Regions from separate parts of the Homo sapiens genome. Here region 2 is linked to region 1. A link means that fine-mapping ties the variant in region 1 to the expression of a gene that starts in the linked region. Tissue or cell type: hypothalamus. Region 1 holds a variant in brackets; the other region holds the start of a gene. All regions are shown on one strand. Distances are from middle to middle.

Region 1 (8,089 bases):
CCCCTTGGACGTGTCTTTGACCAGAACGTTCTTGGTCGCATCTGCTGGTAGTGAAGGCCAAGCCCGGCCGCCTGTGTCTTCAGGTACAGGAGCCATCTGAGTGCTGAGGGCAGATCCTGAGAGCCAGGGCAGTTGTCTGGGATTGTTACGAAGATCAATAGTAAACAGGCTGCCCTTCTTCCTTTTCTTTTCTCCCAGCCGCCTTCTCCCGCTTCTCTCCCCTTTGCTGCCTGACCTTGGTGCTTGTGTGCAGTGGAACTTGCTGTGTGCTGGAGCTTGTGGAAAATGGGAAACCTGCGTTTCTCCTGCTTCTCATTTTAAAGACAAACAGGTTTTCCAAAAATGTGAAAGGCACACCTGGGAAGTCAGAGTGGGAGAAGGATTTGGAATTGGACACATGAACACAGAAGGCTTCGTTCTGCTGTATGTGGCTCCCAAGTGACGGGACAGGTGTGAGCCCCATGGCAGCATGAGGGCAGGGCACGTGCTTCCAGTGCGTGCCAAGACAGACACGCCATGTGCCGTGGGCTACAGACGCGCCGTGTGCTGTGGGCTACAGACGCACCAAGTGCCGTGGGCTACAGATGCACCCGTGTGCCGTGGACGTAGACTTCTTAAACTTCTGTGCGGCAGTGGCCTTCTCTCTTCCATTTGAAATGTTTTTATTTGGCCAAATAGATGTTTATAGAAAGTTACCAAAGTTCAGTGTTCCTTCATAGTAATAGGGAGACTTTAGTACTTAACCTGAGATCTGAGGTTGGCTGCAGTGGTTGTTACAGTGATAATATCAGTAGCTGCTGAGCAGCTGTGGCTTTAAGTATCAAAGGAATAATGGTGTCATTTATAAATACTGCATGATGCTTAAAGCAAAGAGCCTGAAGCTGCAGGCTGGTATCATTTTATCTGCTCTATGTCAGGTACAGAGAGGAGACGAGGAGTGAACCAAACTTACAAAGCCCAGCCACCGGTGGTCGGTGTTTCCAGAGAACCCATTTCCCAAGAGCGGCCCCATGGTTGCTGTCAGCCTGAGGCTGCCGTCACCTGGCCGTGACTGTCTGTGGCCTGCAGTGAGCGACCAGGCCACAGTGGGTGGGTCAGAGGGACTCGTGGACATCGGCCCTGGCAGGGGCCTGACATCGTGAACCGTGTTTTCCATTGTGGCATGGGGTCCTGCACCTGCCTCCCGAGCAGCTGAGCACGGTCACCAGCACTGTTCGTATGAAAGGCCCTGCTTGTGTGTTCTGGCCCCATGCGATACCCTCCAGAGGGCATGGAGGCCACAGCCCCAGGGGAAATGGCCCCGTGCAGCGAGGCCCTGCCCAGCACCGCCACAGGCTGTCCCCAGCTCGCAGTGCTCGCTCATCTCCCCAGGCATCCCATGTCACCAGAGTCCAAGGTGCTGGGCTGCCTGCCCCCCTCCCATCTTGTCAAAGGGCCTTTCCTGGTGTAAGTAGAACTGGGGCTTTCCCTAGGTTCTGTTCATCAGGTGGATGGCTGGAAGCTGCGCTGGTCCCTCCCTCCACACCAAGGACTCTGATGCGCAGGTGTGCTTGCACCTCCGACATGGCAGTTCCTCCGGCCATGTGCACGTGGAGGGCGGCCCATTGTGGTAGCCTTGGGAGGTGTCTTGGTTATCTTGTGTCACTGTGACCTGTGGAGATCCAACTGAGGTAGTCATCACCCCTCGGGGGACACATTCCAAGACCCAGGTGGAGGCCTGAAATGCGATAGTACTGAACCCTGTATATACTGTTTTCCCCTCTGGGAACACACCTCTGATCAAATTTAACTTACAAGTTAGGCACAGTAGAGACTAAAAAAATTGTGAATCAAATGGAATGATTGTAAGGGTGCACTGTGATAAACCCCCTGTGAGGCTGACGACTGTCAGGGTGCAATGTGATAAACCCCCTGTGAGGCTGACGACTGTCAGGGTGCACTGTGATAAACCCCCTGTAAAGCTGGTCTCTTTCTCTCGCAGTCTTACCGCTCTGTGCGCACCTAGTTTCAGACCTTGGCTGAACGCAAGTAACTGAAACTAGGGAAAGCAAAGCCGAGTGGGGGCAGCCGCTAGAAGGAAGGGGCAGCCTCAGGGCACACTGTGGGGCTTGGCAGTTAGGGACCCTGCAGAGTCCACATGCCAGTTGGTTGGCAGCACAGCAGAGCGCCCGGAAGGGGCACATGCCTTTGACAGGAGTTAGATGTGGTGGAGAGAGGCGCTTAAAATTATTGAGGACAAGATGGGTTATTTGGTATTTAATGCTAACAGCTGTATCTCCATTTTGATGTGAAGGAGTGAGCTAGATTTTATTTATTTTTTATTATTTTATTTTTTACCTTTAGGCTCTGCTGGACTGGCCTAGATTTTGTATACACACATTTCAGGTGAAGGTCTAAAAAAAACTGGAGCATATAAAGAAAAATAGAATATATGTGTAATTCTGGAATAAGGAAGGACTGTGTTTCCAAAATAGAAAATAAATAAATAAATAAAGGAAAAGATTGGAATATCTGATTGATTTATTTATTTTATTTTTGAGACAGAGTCTTACTCTGTCGCCCAGGCTGGAGTGCAGTGCTGCGATCTCAGCTTACTGCAATCTCTGCCTCCCGGGTTCAAGCGATTCTCTTGCCTCAGCCTCCCAAGTAGCTGGGATTACAGGTGCGTGCCACCACACCTAGCTAATTTTTGTATTTTTACTAGAGATGGGGTTTCACCATGTTGGTCAGGCTGTTCTTTTTTTTTTTTTTTTTTTTCTTTTGAGACAGAGTCTTGCTCTGTCACCCAGGCTGGAGTGCAGTGGCGTGATCTCAGCTTACTGCAAGCTCCGCCTCCCAGGTTCACGCTATTCTCCCGCCTCAGCCTCCGAAGTAGTCTGGGACTACAGGCGCCCGCCACCACGCCCAGCTAATTTTTTGTATTTTTAGTAGAGACGGGGTTTCACTGTGTTAGCCAGGATGGTCTCGATCTCCTGACCTCGTGATCTGCCTGCCTCGGCCACCCAAAGTGCTGGGATTAAAGGCATGAGCCACCGCACCCGGCCTGTCTGATTTCATAGAAATGAAAAATTTTGTTTGACCAAAATCAACCTGAGCAATGTTAAAAAGAAAAATGACATTTAGGGAGAAAATGTTTTTTGCGTATATAACCAGAGATTAATAACAAGTCTATTTGAAGACTTCTGTAAATCACCAAGAAACTCATAATCCACCCCATAGAAAATGGTAAACCATATGAACAGATAAAGAGGAAGAAGTTTAAATGACAAATACGCTAAACTGCCAATCTGACCATTAATCAGGGAAGTGCAGATTGAAAAAAGGTGTCATTTCCTGGCTAATTTTGCAGTAACAAGAGGAGGTGAATCGTCCCAGGAGCTGGGGAGGAACCTCTGCTCTAGGTAGGGGGACAGGAGGTGGCACCACCCACACACACTGTCACATACCGGCCCTGACATCAGTCCCGTGGCCATGCTTGGACTTGGGCACAGGTGCAGAGACGTCTGAGCTGAATCCCAAGGGCCTCATCCTGATCAAAACCCAGTGTCCTCTCCCGACGCGCACTGCAGAATGAGCAGAACATCTGCGTCCCATTTCTAGTACCGTGCACGGAAAACAAACCCAAATGATCACGTGTGGATGCTCTGTGTGTGCACCAAAGCCCCCGCCTAAAATCAGAGGAGAGATCTGGAAAGATGCCCGGTGCTTTAATGCACCCCGTTGAAAAGGACAGAGGGACAAGAGGACAGGTGGAGATGTTGGTCTTTTCTCCATGCTCCTTATTTTCTCCAAATTGCTTGTGTTTTTAATTAATACATTGAGATATTCAGATAACATGAAAATGTGAAATAAAATGAGAGGCTGTTGGCAGGCTGTCACTAACATGCCCTGCTTGCCTGTTTGCAGGTATGGATCCTGGCGGGAGCCAGTCAACCCCTATTATGTCAATGCCGGCTATGCCCTGGCCCCAGCCACCAGTGCCAACGACAGCGAGCAGCAGAGCCTGTCCAGCGATGCAGACACCCTGTCCCTCACGGACAGCAGCGTGTAAGTCCCGCCCCGGATACCCAGTCCCTCACGGACAGCAGTGTGTAAGTCCGGTCCCAGACACCTTGTCCCTTGAGGACAGCAATGTGTAAGTCCTGCCCCAGACACCCTGTTTCTTGCGGATGGCAGCGTGTAAGTCCCACCCTGCTGCAGAGCGCGGCCAGCTCAGAGGGGGCTTCGTGCTGACCCAGAGATGCCTGGGCTTTGTCTTCAGGAAAAGTGTTTCCTGGCTCCCCAGGTCTCAGTGAGAGTGCGTCTGGACATGCAGGCAGGCTGTACCGCAGAGGCTGTCCTCCAAGCAGTACAAGTGAGGGCTCAGCTTTGTGTCGGTTGCTTCTCTCTGTGACCAGGGCTGCTGGGACCTCCCTATGAGGAAGGATCGAGGGTGAACCTAAGACAGTCTGTAGGCTGCCC[G/A]GGCTAGAGTTTGCTCTTTGGTTTTCAGAGTCTGGGGTTTCAGCTTAAAGACAGGCACAGGCCAGCTGCCTCACCACTGGCTGTGGCGAGTGATGTGGTCCCTGAGGGTGGCGTTTCTGCCGACGCTGGTGCAGTACAGGGTCCTGTCTTGTCCCTGTCACCCACTTGGCAAGGGGCTGGGAGCAGGAGTGAGGGAAGATGCTGTGGTTGTGCTGAGGCCTGGGCCACACATGTGTGACGCTCGAGGTGACAGGCAGAAGCTTATTCTTTCATTGTCCAGGGAAACCCCATGTGTAGGAACGTGCTTGTTTTATGACCTCTTCCCCTGTGCTTCGCAGCTGGCTTTTTGGGACCTATGTACACCCCAGCCATTAGATGATGCCAACAGTCTTGTTGCAGTAGGGCACTGGCTGCCAGCCTGTGGGGGTCATTTGGGGTTTTGGTTACCCATGAAGCTCAGACCTTCCCAGCTCTGGTCTGTGCGCCACACGCCACCTGCCCACCAGCCATCCTAGCCAGGGCTGGGGCCGAGCCGCAGGAACCAGGGTCTCCCTGCAGCAGCCTCAGCATTGGAGGAAGCCAGCGGCTATGAACTTGTGAGCAGCTGGAGCCCGCGGACCACCACCCTCCATCCCCACTGCGGCCAGTGGTGTCCCAGATGTCTTTCCCGCTTAGCTGGGTTCTCCATGAGGAAAGCCTGGAGATCTGGATAGGGCTGGAGGAGGAGAGAGGGACTTCTCACCTACTGGTGATTCTGCCCATCTTTTTATGAATATGTTTTAAGTGATGGTCCCACTGTATGTACCATTTTTATGGTTCTTTTCATTTTGAGACAGGATCTCACTGTCACCCAGGCTGGACTGCAATGGTGCGATCTTGGCTTACTGTAGCTTCTGTCTCCTGGTCCCAAGCAATTCTGCCTCAGCCTTCAGAGTTGCTGAGGCTACAAGCGTGCGCCACCACGCCTGGCTAATGATTATTATAATTTTTGTGGAGACGAGGCCTCACTATGCAGTCTCGAACTCCGAGGCTCAAACGGTGCACCCACTTCAGCCTCATGAGTGCTGGGATTACGGGCATGAGCCACTGCATCCGGCTGATGATGATGATTATTTTTGTGGAGACGAGGCCTCACTATGCAGTCTCCAACTCCTGGGCGCAAACTGCACCCACTTCAGCCTCACGAGTGCTGGGATTATGGGCATGAGCCACTGTGCCTGGCTGGTTTGTTCTTTTCATTTGCCTGTCTTTAAACATTTTTCCAAAACCTGAATTTCAGATGAGGAGAACAAGTTGTCACATTCTGTTTCTGAACCAGATTCAGCCAGCCCACATTGCCGTAGGTCTTGGCCCCTTGGTTTTTCCCCAGGTAGCTGTGGTAGTGCAGGGGCAGCTCCCTGCCCCTTCCGGGCAGAGCTGCTGTGTGTGGCTTCTCCTGGTTTCTTTCATCCTCGTTTAATTTTGAATCTTCAAAATAAAATGTTGACGTGATTTTAGCAGCACCTGACTTGAGGTTACTGGAGTTGAAGCAGTGCCTGCCGTGGTCCTGAAGCCTCGGGCCAGGTGGTTGGGTGCAGTGCAGCCCACGGAGCGCCTGACATGCATCCTAGCATCTGGTTTCCCTCTTCCCCAAAACTCTGTTACTACAACAAAAAGTAACCTGCCAACTCAGTTTTCTCAAAAAGTCTCCTAATTCTCTCCAAGAAAAGGGACATATGTTTCCTAAAGGGAGGACCTAAAATAAATAGGTATTTTTTTTCTTGATATTCTGTTCATCTTGGTTTGTACTGAAGTGTTTAACAATTTGGAATGTGAAATTGCTACACGTACTCGAAAGCAAATCAGAGGTAAAAAGTGGACAGGTGAAGAGCATCATTCCGGTGGGGCAGCTGCCCTCAGCTTTTGTGCTGGCGGCAAGCTCACAACATTCCACATGGCACTCGAGAGGCTGTGGGCTGTGGACACAGATGTGGGGTCAGTGTCTAATCCACGGAGGCCTGTGGAGGTTACCCAATCCAAGTATCATGTCTAAGAAACCAGTAGGTTGGTGGCTTCAGGACACTTCAACAAACCCCGAGGCAAGTGTTAGGTGAGTTTTAGATTCACTTGTTCCTGACGCCCACCGTGGCTGAGCCAGACCTGGACTCGGCTCACCATTGCCCACAACACTCAGTGGTGCTGTGACAGCCGAGGATGCCTCAGGAGTTGCCGTGTCTGCCACGCAGCCCTGGGTCGGGCGCTCTCTTCAGTCGTCCTGTGTCTCCTGGCAGCTCTGAGAGGCCCCTGGGTGCGGCACGGATCCCTGGAGCTGCCGTGCTTCCGAAGGCAGCTTTTCTTTCTTTCTTCCTTTTCTTTTTTGAGACGTAGTCTTGCTCTGTTGCCCAGACTGGAGTGCAGTGGCACAATCTCGCCTCACTGCAACCTCCGCCTCCCGGGTTCACGCCATTCTCCTGCCTCAGCCTCCCGAGTAGCTGGGACTACAGGCACTCGCCACCACACCTGGCTAATTTTTTGTATTTTTAGTAGAGACGGGGTTTCACCGTGTTAGCCAGGATGGTCTCGATCTCCTGACCTCGTGATCCGCCCGCCTCGGCCTCCCACAGTGCTGGGATGACAGGCATGAGCCACTGCGCCCAGCCCGAAGGCAGCTTTTCTAATAGCTGGGAGAGGGCGAGGGCTTTCATGAAGGATGGTTGTGCGTGAGTTATCTTAACCCTGGGGTAATTATTCAGACCATGTATAATCTGACTTTCGTGTTTTAATGATCTTCTAAAGGGTTCATAAAGAAAACCTGTTGCGGGCTGGGCGCGGTGGCGCATGCCTGTAATCCCAGCAGTTTGGGAGGCCGAGGCAGGCGGATCACGGGGTCAGGAGATTGAGACCATCGTGGTTAACACAGTGAAACCCCGTCTCTACTAAATAATACAAAAAATTAGCCGGGCGTGGTGGCGGGCACCTGTAGTCCCAGCTACTCGGGAGGCTGAGGCAGGAGAATGGCGTGAACCCGGGAGCGGCTTGCAGTGATCCGAGATCGCGCCACTACACTCCAGCCTGGGCGACAGAGCAAGACTCCGTCTCAAAAAGAAAAAAATAAAAGAAAACCTGTTGCTAAAGAGCTACCTTGTGCCTCCCTCAGAGACCACACTGCCCTGCCAGCTCCTGGAGAGAAGCAGAGTGTGCAGCCTTGGCATCTCCTATCTTTCCGTGGGGCACTGGTTGTCCTGGCTGCCCACTGTGCAATCCTGAAATGTTTTTGGTCCATTTAGCAATGCCCTCCAAGGCAGGCACACTGCACAGTGGTCTAGGCCACAAGCAGGGGCCAGCAAACGTTTCCCGTGCAGGGCTGGCAGTGAATATGTGAGGCTTTGCAGCCGCATGCAGTCCCTGTCACAGATTCTTCCCCCACCCTTTAAAAATGTAGAAACCTTGGCCGGGCGCCGTGGCTTGCGCCTGTAATTACTCCCAGCACTTTGCGAGGCCGAGGCGGGCGGATCACGAGGTCAGGAGATCGAGACTCTCCTGGCTAACACAGTGAAACCCCGTGTCTACTAAAAATACAAAAAAATTAGCTGGGCGTGGTGGCGGGCACCTGTAGTCCCAGCTACTCAGGAGGCTGAGGCAGGAGAAT
Region 2 (8,089 bases), 38 kb before region 1:
TGGCTGTCTCCATCACACATCGTACAGCGGCAAACACTCCCCAGCTAATGTCCTTGGGGTGTCTTCCAGGGTTTCCTTTGGGTCATTTTTTATAAGTGGTCTTCCTCAGTTAAATGGATAAACACACTTAAGGCATCAAAACTCACTTTATTATTTTCTTAATTTTTATTTCTTGGAGACACGGTCTTACTCTGTTGCCCAGGCTGACGTGTAGTGGCTCAATCACAGCTCACTAAAGCCTCCAACCGCTGGGTTCAAGTGATCCACCTGCCTCGCGCTCCCGAGTAGCTGAGACCATAGGTGCGCAACACCACGCCCAGCTAGTTTTTAAAAATTGTTTAGTAGAGACAAGGTCTCACTATGTTGCCCAGACTGGTCTTGAACTCCTAAGCTTAAGTGATCCTCTGGCCTTGGCCTCCCGAACTGCTAGGACTACGGGTGTGAGCCACCGTGCCTGGCCTTTTCTTTATTTTTATTTTTTTGAGACAGAGTCTCGCTCTGTCACCCAGGCTGGAGTGCAATGGGGCGATCTCAGCTCACTGCAACCTCTGCCTCCCAGGTTCAAGCAATTATCCTGCCTCAGCCTCCTGAGTAGCTGGGACTACAGGTGTGCGCCACCACGCCTGGCTAATTTTTCTATTTTTAGTAGAGATGGGGTTTCACCATGTTGGTCAGGCTGGTCTCGAACTCCTTACTTCGTGATCCACCTGCATCGGCCTCCCAAAGTGCTGGGATTACAGGCGTGAGCCACCGCTCCGGGCCAGCCACTTTATTTTCAAGGTATTCCTTTTAGGCTGGGCATGGTGGCTTGGGCCCGTAATCCCAGCACTTCGGGAGGCCAACGCAGGTGGATCCCTTGAGCTCAGGAGTTAGAGACCGGCCTGGGCAACATGATGAAACCCTGTCTCTAGCAAAAATACAAACAATTAGTGGGGTGTGGTGGCACACGCCTGTAATCCCAGTTACTCGGGAGGCTGAGGTGGGAAGATCACTTGAGCATGGTAGGTGGAGGCTGCAGTGAGCCAAAATCACGCCACTGGGCTCCAGCCTGGGCAACAGAATGAAACTCCGTCTCCAAAAACCAACAAACAAAAAAACATACCTTTTATGTCTACATTGAAGAAAATAATTCCATGTCTGCTCTTAAGTGTCTCATTTGGTGCCTAGAAACAAAACCTGATTAAATGTCATCTACGGTCAATCAAATAAAAGCCTTCGTGGCAAACTCACGCTCGAAGCAAAGGGCGTTTGCCTCTTCAAGGAGCTCTGTGAGGAAGGGAGGTGGCTGAACCTCACCCTGCACACCACAGGCCCCCGCGCGCCTCCCTGCCCCTCCTCAGGGCCTTCCTCTACCTCTCTTCTGCCTGGCCTGCCTCTGGTCTCCTCCTACCCCCACTAGGCTCAGAGAATCTCCCCTCCACACCCACACCACAACCTACTTTAGAAGGGCTGCTGCATTTCCTCCAGGCTTTCTGACCCCCTTCCTGTCCCTGCAGGGCAGGGGCCCCGAGGAGCTGGAGGCCCAAGGGCCTTGTTCTGGTCCCAGGGCCTGGGGACACCTGCCACCGAGGGCCAAGAGGAGGATGGACGTGGACACAGCCCCGAGAGCCTGGCCCGGACACAGCAGCAGCTCTGCAGAACCAAGGCAAGCATTGGGGACCTTGTTGGGAGTCGGGGGGCAGCCCAGGGGCCAGTGTCTGAGGTCCTGCTGTCTGTCTGGCCACCCAGGACTCCCTCATCCCTGGAAACTGTGCTTTACCATGGAGGCCACCCACTCTGTCTCCTCTAAGGTTCTGAGGCTGAATGGGCTAGGGGGCTTGCGGGGAGGCCCCAGTGTCCAGCACTGTGGGACCTGGCAGGGTGCCTGCGGCCAGGACCCAGCGGGGCCAGGTGTTGGTCTAACAGTGCAGCTTCGTTCATATCCCCAGCCCCTGCCCACCTGCTCTGAGCACAGTGATGGCCCTGGGAGGTGGGCCTGGGCCCTTGGCAGGCTGGGGACAGCCTAGTGGCCCTTGTCCCATGCTACCCCCTTTCCCACACAGCGATGCTGGCATCAGACACCATGCTGAGTGCTGGCAGGGGCGAGGGCTGGGAGGCTTCCACACATGGTTCCCCATGCAGTCCCACCTGTGGGCATCTGGTTGGGGGTAGGCTGGAAGCTCGGGGAGCCTGGAGCTGGGACTTCTGTGCTTGCCTGGGAGCTCTGAAGGGTGAGGCTGGGCATCCAGGGTGACACAGCCCAGGGAAAGACATGGGGGTGACGTGAGAGGTGCCTGGAGGGAGCTGGCAGGTATGGACATGATGGACACGGAAGCACGGAGGCGGGCAAGTGGCCAGACGCATCTAGGGGAAGGTGTGGGGGAGGCGCCCTTAGGAAGGGCCCTGAAGGGCTGTGGGCAGCAGGGAGCCCTGGGAGGCCTAAAGCAGAGGGCAGATAGATGAGGGCTGTTGTCTCAGGTGTGGGGCGGACGAGGTGGGGAGCCCTCACCCAACAGGAGGCGAGCTGGTCCTGTGTGGCCTGAACTGCAGCTGTCTCCTCTGTGAAACGGGGGTATAGCTGACCCCAGGGGGCTGCCTGGAGCATCCCGGGAGGTGCCAGGCCCAATAGTGCTCTGGGAAGGACAGGGCCCTGGGCTGTTGTGGGAGGCGGCAGATCCTGGTACTCACATCCTCCTCCTTGGGGAGGGCCTGATGGTTGGCTGAGGCCTGGGTGGAGAGCAGAGGGTTGGTTCTGACAGGGTTGGGCTGGCCAGAGCTGGTGCTGGGGCTGCTGCTGGGGGCCCGTGCCTCTCTGCCGTGGGGTGCCTGGGGCTGTGACCTCATGCTCTGTGGCCTGCAGGGCAAGTGACACGGATCTGGGCAGCCAGGGTGGCAGGATCGGACTGGACCCCTTGGCAGGGCCGCTGTGGAGACAGCCCAGGGGAAGGGGTGCAGGGGTCTGGACACTCCAATGGCCTTGCTCTCGGGCTGGCCTGGGCAGCGGAGGGAAGGAGAACCCTTCTCTGATACTAGATGGTGCCTGGGAGAAATCAAGGCAGAGGGTCCTAGCCGGTGGGCTCTTTGGAGGTTGTGGCTCCTGTCCGGGTGAGAGCCACCATATATTGGGGCCTAACGTGTTCCCTGGCGCTGTGAGTCCAGGCTGCCTTGGGACTCAGGAGGGTGGAGCCCACCCCACCTTCCAAGGGCCCTGGCCATCCCTGCCTGCCGACCACCCCACTCCTGGGAGCCTGCTTCCCTCACGGCGGCGGGCAGGCCGTGGCGGTCCCCACGAGGGCCTCCTCTCCAGGGCCGGCTGGGCAGGGAGCCCCGAGGCCTGCAGCCCCCTGACTGCCCTCCGATGTACTGGCGGCAGAAAAGGGCTGCGCCCCACGTGCGCCCTTCGGGGCGCGCAGTCCGCCCAGTGCTCCCCACGGCCGCGGCCATTCCAAGGACCTGCAACGCCGCCTCTCCCACTCCGCTCTCTGGGAAGCCAAAGCCTCCCGGGCTCCGCTTCCGCACCGCCCCTCGGGAAGACGGCGCGACCGCGCCCCCGGCACGCCCCGCCCCCGGCAGGCACTGACCACGCCCTCTCCCGGCCATGCAGAGACCCCGGCCCATGTTTCTCAACTCGTCTTCTCGCTTCCGGCCCCGCCCCGCGCCGGAGGCCCCGCCCCACGCTCTTTACCTCTTCTGCTCGAGGCGGGCCCCGCCTTACTCCCTGGTCCCCGCCCCACGCCCGAGGCCCCGCCCCGAGCTCTTCACCTCGTCTTCTCGCTTCCGGCCCCGCCCACGCCCCGGCCCCGCCCCGCGCTCCTCACCTGTCCCCTCGCTGTCGGCCCCGCCCCACGCTCCTCACTTTATCCTCGCGCTTTCAGCCCCGCCCCGCGCCTGAAGCCCCGCCCCACACCCTTTACCTCGTCCCCGCGCTGCCGGCCCCGCCCCGTGTTGAGGCCCCGCCCCGCGCTCTCACCTCGTCCCCGCGCCCCGGCCCCGCCCCCGCACTTCCGGACGCCGCCGGCGGGGGCGCTCGGGCCTGGGCTTCGGCGCTCTGGCTCGGGCTCTGGCTCGGGAGGCGATCGTGGCCGCTGCCGCCGCCAGAGCCGGCCGGAGTCGGCCCGGAGCCGCGTCCACGCGGAGCGGGCGGGTGGGAGCTGGCGGCTGGGCCCCTGCGGCGCCCCCGCGGCCTGCCCCGCGTCCGCCTCCGGGCCGCCGAGCCGCAGCCGCCGAGATGGGGGCCGCCCCGGGCCGCGCCCCCGCCGGGTCCCGCCCGCCGCGCTGCCGCTGAGCGCATGGGCCCGGACCGCGCCGCGCCGCTCCGGGAGCCGGGCCCGGGGTCCCGCCACCACCGCGCGCGGGTGAGTAGGGCCGGGCTCCGGGGCGGGCTAGGCCGCGGTAGGCCGGGCGGGCGGGACCCGGAAGCGGCGGGGGGCGCGGGTGGCTGACGCGCGTGGGACCGAGGGGGTGGGCGCGCGGGGAGCTGGGGCCGGGGTGTCCCTGGGCAGCGGGACTGGCGGCGCGGTGGCCGCTTGGAGGTCCGAGGCCTCGGGCGCGTCTCGGGGCACGGAGCAGCTGCAGGGGCCGCGCATCGCGTGCGGGGGCCCGGGAGAGCCGGGCCTGGAGCCCTCCCCGCCGCCCAGAAGTCGGCGGGAGTCCGGCTGTCCCGGAGGAGGACACTCCCGCCCGCCCTCGCCGAGGCCGCGTGCCGGGTCCGGGTCGGGGTTCGGCCTGAGTAGCCGCGTGCTCCGGCGTCCGTACCCTCCAGGTTGATGCCTTGCTGCCCAAACACTGGTCTTTCTCTTGGGTGTGGTTCTTAGATTCTACCCCCGCCCCGCACTTTGGAATTTAGCCCCCGTGAAACCAGAGCTGCACTGCCCGAGCAGTGAAACTTTCAGCTTGGCATTGAAGAAAGTAGAGAAAAACATGTCAGTTCTCTGGGGATTTTTCTCAGCCCATCTATAAGATATATATATATATATTTTTTGTAGAGATGGGGTGTCACTATATTGCCCAGCAGGTGTTGAATTCTTGGCCTCAAGCGATCCACCTGCCTCAGCCTTCCAAGGTGTTGGGACTACAGGGGTGACCACCGTCCTCTAAGATAATTTTTTTTTTTTGAGACGGAGTCTCGCACTGTAGCCCAGGCTGGAGTGCAGTGGCGCTATCTTGGCTCACTGCAACCTCCGCCTCCCGGGTTCAAGCAGTTTTCCTGCCTCAGCCGCCTGAGTAGCTGGGATAACAGGCATGCGCCACCACATCCGGCTAATTTTTGTATTTTTAGTAGAGACAGGGTTTCACCATGTTGACCAGGCTGGCCTGGAACTCCTGACCTCAGGTGATCTGCCCACTTTGGCCTACCAAAGTGTTGGGATTACAGGCGTGAGCCACCGCGCCTGGCCCCTTCTAAGATAATTTATAAAGGGTTCTTATGTGCATGTCAGCCCCTTGTTTTTGCTCACACTTCTGTTCTCTGCTTCTTCAGGAAGAATCTCGAGCTTACTTGGATCCACAGGCCCTATTTTGGAGAAAACACAGTCTAAACCGGCTACCCGAGATACTCAGCAATAGCTCGGTTTCAGTTTTTTTTTTTTTTTGAGACAGAGTTTTGCTCTTGTTGCCCAGGCTGGAGTCCAATGGCGTGATCTCCGCTCACCGCATCCTCCGCCTCCCAGGTTCAAGCGATTCTCCTGCCTCAGCCTTCCCAAGTAGCTGGGATTATAGGCATGCGCCACCAAGCCTGACTAATTTTGTATTTTTAGTAGAGATGGGGTTTCTGTATGTGGGTCAGGATGGTCTTGAACTCCCGACCTCAGGTGATCCGCCCACCTCGGCCTCCCAAAGTGCTGGGATTACAGGCGTGAGCCACCTCACCTGGCTTTGGTTTCAGTTTTAAGATCTCCATTCAGGGACAAGGATGGGAAAGCATGAAAAACAGACTGTTTTTGTTTGATTTTCAGCTGGTGTTGACTTGTCTTGGGTTTCTAGTTTCAGAAAAGCTAAGCAGACTTTTTCGGATTACATTGGTCATTGAGAATTTCAGTGATGGGGGAATAAATTACATGTGAAATAGTAGCCCTGAACCTTCAAGAGTTAAATCAATGGACAGCTGGGAAGATGTCAGAGTCGTGTTGTGTTACTTGCCTCCTCCATGTAAATCAAAATGTCAAAAGTTACGTTTGGGTAAAATAAATACCTACACACGTAGGTAGCATTGAGTTTGCTGCCATGATGCCTGGAGCATATGCCTAAGCGGTGACGAAAGGGAATTTTAAATACAGTATCATACTTGTAGGCATCCCGCCCGTTTTATGGACTCACTTTATTGATGGTAGCTACAGGCTGTGGGCCAGATTCAGTGCTTGCAGGCATTTGATACTGAACTGAGTAAACGTGACTGCTTTATGTGTGGTGTGTACTTGTGTGTACACTAAATGCTTGGTGTGCTTCCCTGTGGGAACCCAGAGATTTCAGGAATTGGGACATGTTTCAACAACATCAGTAGCTTGTAGAGGGGTTCATGTGCTTCCAGGGACACCAAAAAGTCTTCTGTCAGTTGACAGCCAAAAATACACATGATTGTAAGAAAATTTTCTTCTGGGCTCTGAAAATTTGGTTCACACATGAATTAAAACATTAGTTTTGGGGCCAGGCAAAGTGGCCTGTAATCCCAACACTTTGGGAGGCCGAGGCGGGTGGATTGCTTTGAGCTCAGGAGTTTGAGACCAGCCTGGCCAACGTGGTGAAACCCAAAATACAGTAATTAGCCGGGCGTTGATGACTCGTGCCTGTAGTCCCCGCCACTTGAGAGGCTGAGGCTGGAGAATTGCTTGAGCCTGGGAAGCTGAGGCTGCAGTGAGCTGAGATCGCCCCACTGCAGTCCAGCCTAGGCGACAGAGCGAGACCCTGTCTCAAAATAACAAAAAACAAAACAACAAAACCCATTAGTTTTGGAAGAATTTGCTGCTGTTTTCTGTGGTACAGTAGTTCAGCCCCTGTAGAGAGCCAGTGTTTGGCGTCTGTGACAAATGTCTTTTCTTTTTTACATCAGTGAATGACTTACTGGTGCCCGTTAGTTGCAGGACCTTGTGCTGGGTGCTGTGGGTCCCGCTACTACCAATAATTAACACAGAAGACTTAAGTCCCTTATGAGAGCATGATGGTGACTTGTGGTTAGCCTCCCTTCTGAGCACTGTCTGATTAATCACTTTCCACTCTCCGGTGACTTGGTTCTTCAAGCTAGTGAATGGTAGTACATCTATAGTGGTAAGGCTCAGGTGGTCAGGGTGCAGGCCTTCTTTCCTGTGATGGCGTCCCAGACAGATGACCGTGAGCTAGTGTGGAGGTGCCCACGCCCAGGGTGCTCCCTCCATGCTGATGTGGCTCACGGAGTGACTGCCGCTGAAGTGGTCTGTGAGCAGCAGGATGTCACAGCTCACTGGGCCTTGACCTTTAGAAGCTGTGTGTTCCTGCTGAGGCCAAGATGACATACTACCCAGCAGCGTTCACAAAAAGTCCTTAGCTGCTGAAATGTCATTGGGGGCACATAGTTGCAAACCATCCTCCATCTATGGGTGCTTCTTATTTATTTACTAATTTTATTTTATTTTATTTTATTTTATTTTTTTGAGACAGAGTCTCACTCTGTCGCCCAAGCTGGAGTGCAGTGGCCGGCGCGGTGTCGGCTCACTGCAAGCTCTGCCTCCCGGGTTCATGCCATTCTCCCACGTCAGTCTCCCGAGTAGCTGGGACTGCAGGTGCCCACCACCATGCCTGGCTAATTTTTTGTATTTTTAGTAGAGATGGGGTTTCACCGTGTTAGCCAGGATGGTCTCGATCTCTTGACCTCGTGATCCGCCCGCCTTGGCTTCCCAAAGTGCTGGGATTACAGGTGTGAGCCACTGTGCCCGGCCTATTTTTTTTTTAGAGACAGGATCTTGCTCTGTTGCCCAGGCTGGAGTGCAGTGGGGTGCGATTATAGCTCACTGCAGCCTTGAACTCCTGGGTCAAGTGATCCTCTTGCCTCAGTCTTCCAAGTAGCTGAGACTACAGGCATACGCTACCATACCCGGCTAATTAAGAACTGTTTTTTGGTAGAGATTGGGTCTCACTATGT

The links. PIP is the estimated chance that this variant, and not a neighbour inherited with it, causes the effect.
Region 2: AXIN1 starts here. The variant in region 1 is fine-mapped to the expression of AXIN1 in hypothalamus (GTEx, PIP 0.97).

What each region holds. Positions count from the first base shown.
Region 1 is chr16:310,501-318,589 of GRCh38, reverse strand. AXIN1 (axin 1) reads left to right here. Exons shown (of 11, transcript NM_003502.4): 3 at 3,907-4,047. Among named protein-coding and RNA genes, the nearest start is that of PDIA2, 31 kb to the right of the region's middle. RefSeq lists enhancers at 1-339, 340-1,091, 1,092-1,845. The variant G/A (reference allele first, on the strand shown) is at 4,462.
Region 2 is chr16:348,614-356,702 of GRCh38, reverse strand. It overlaps AXIN1 (axin 1), which reads left to right and starts at 3,980. Exons shown (of 11, transcript NM_003502.4): 1 at 3,980-4,334. RefSeq lists silencers at 3,312-3,571, 3,612-4,091, 4,192-4,271, 4,552-4,601, 4,622-4,691 and 1 more and an enhancer at 7,195-7,474.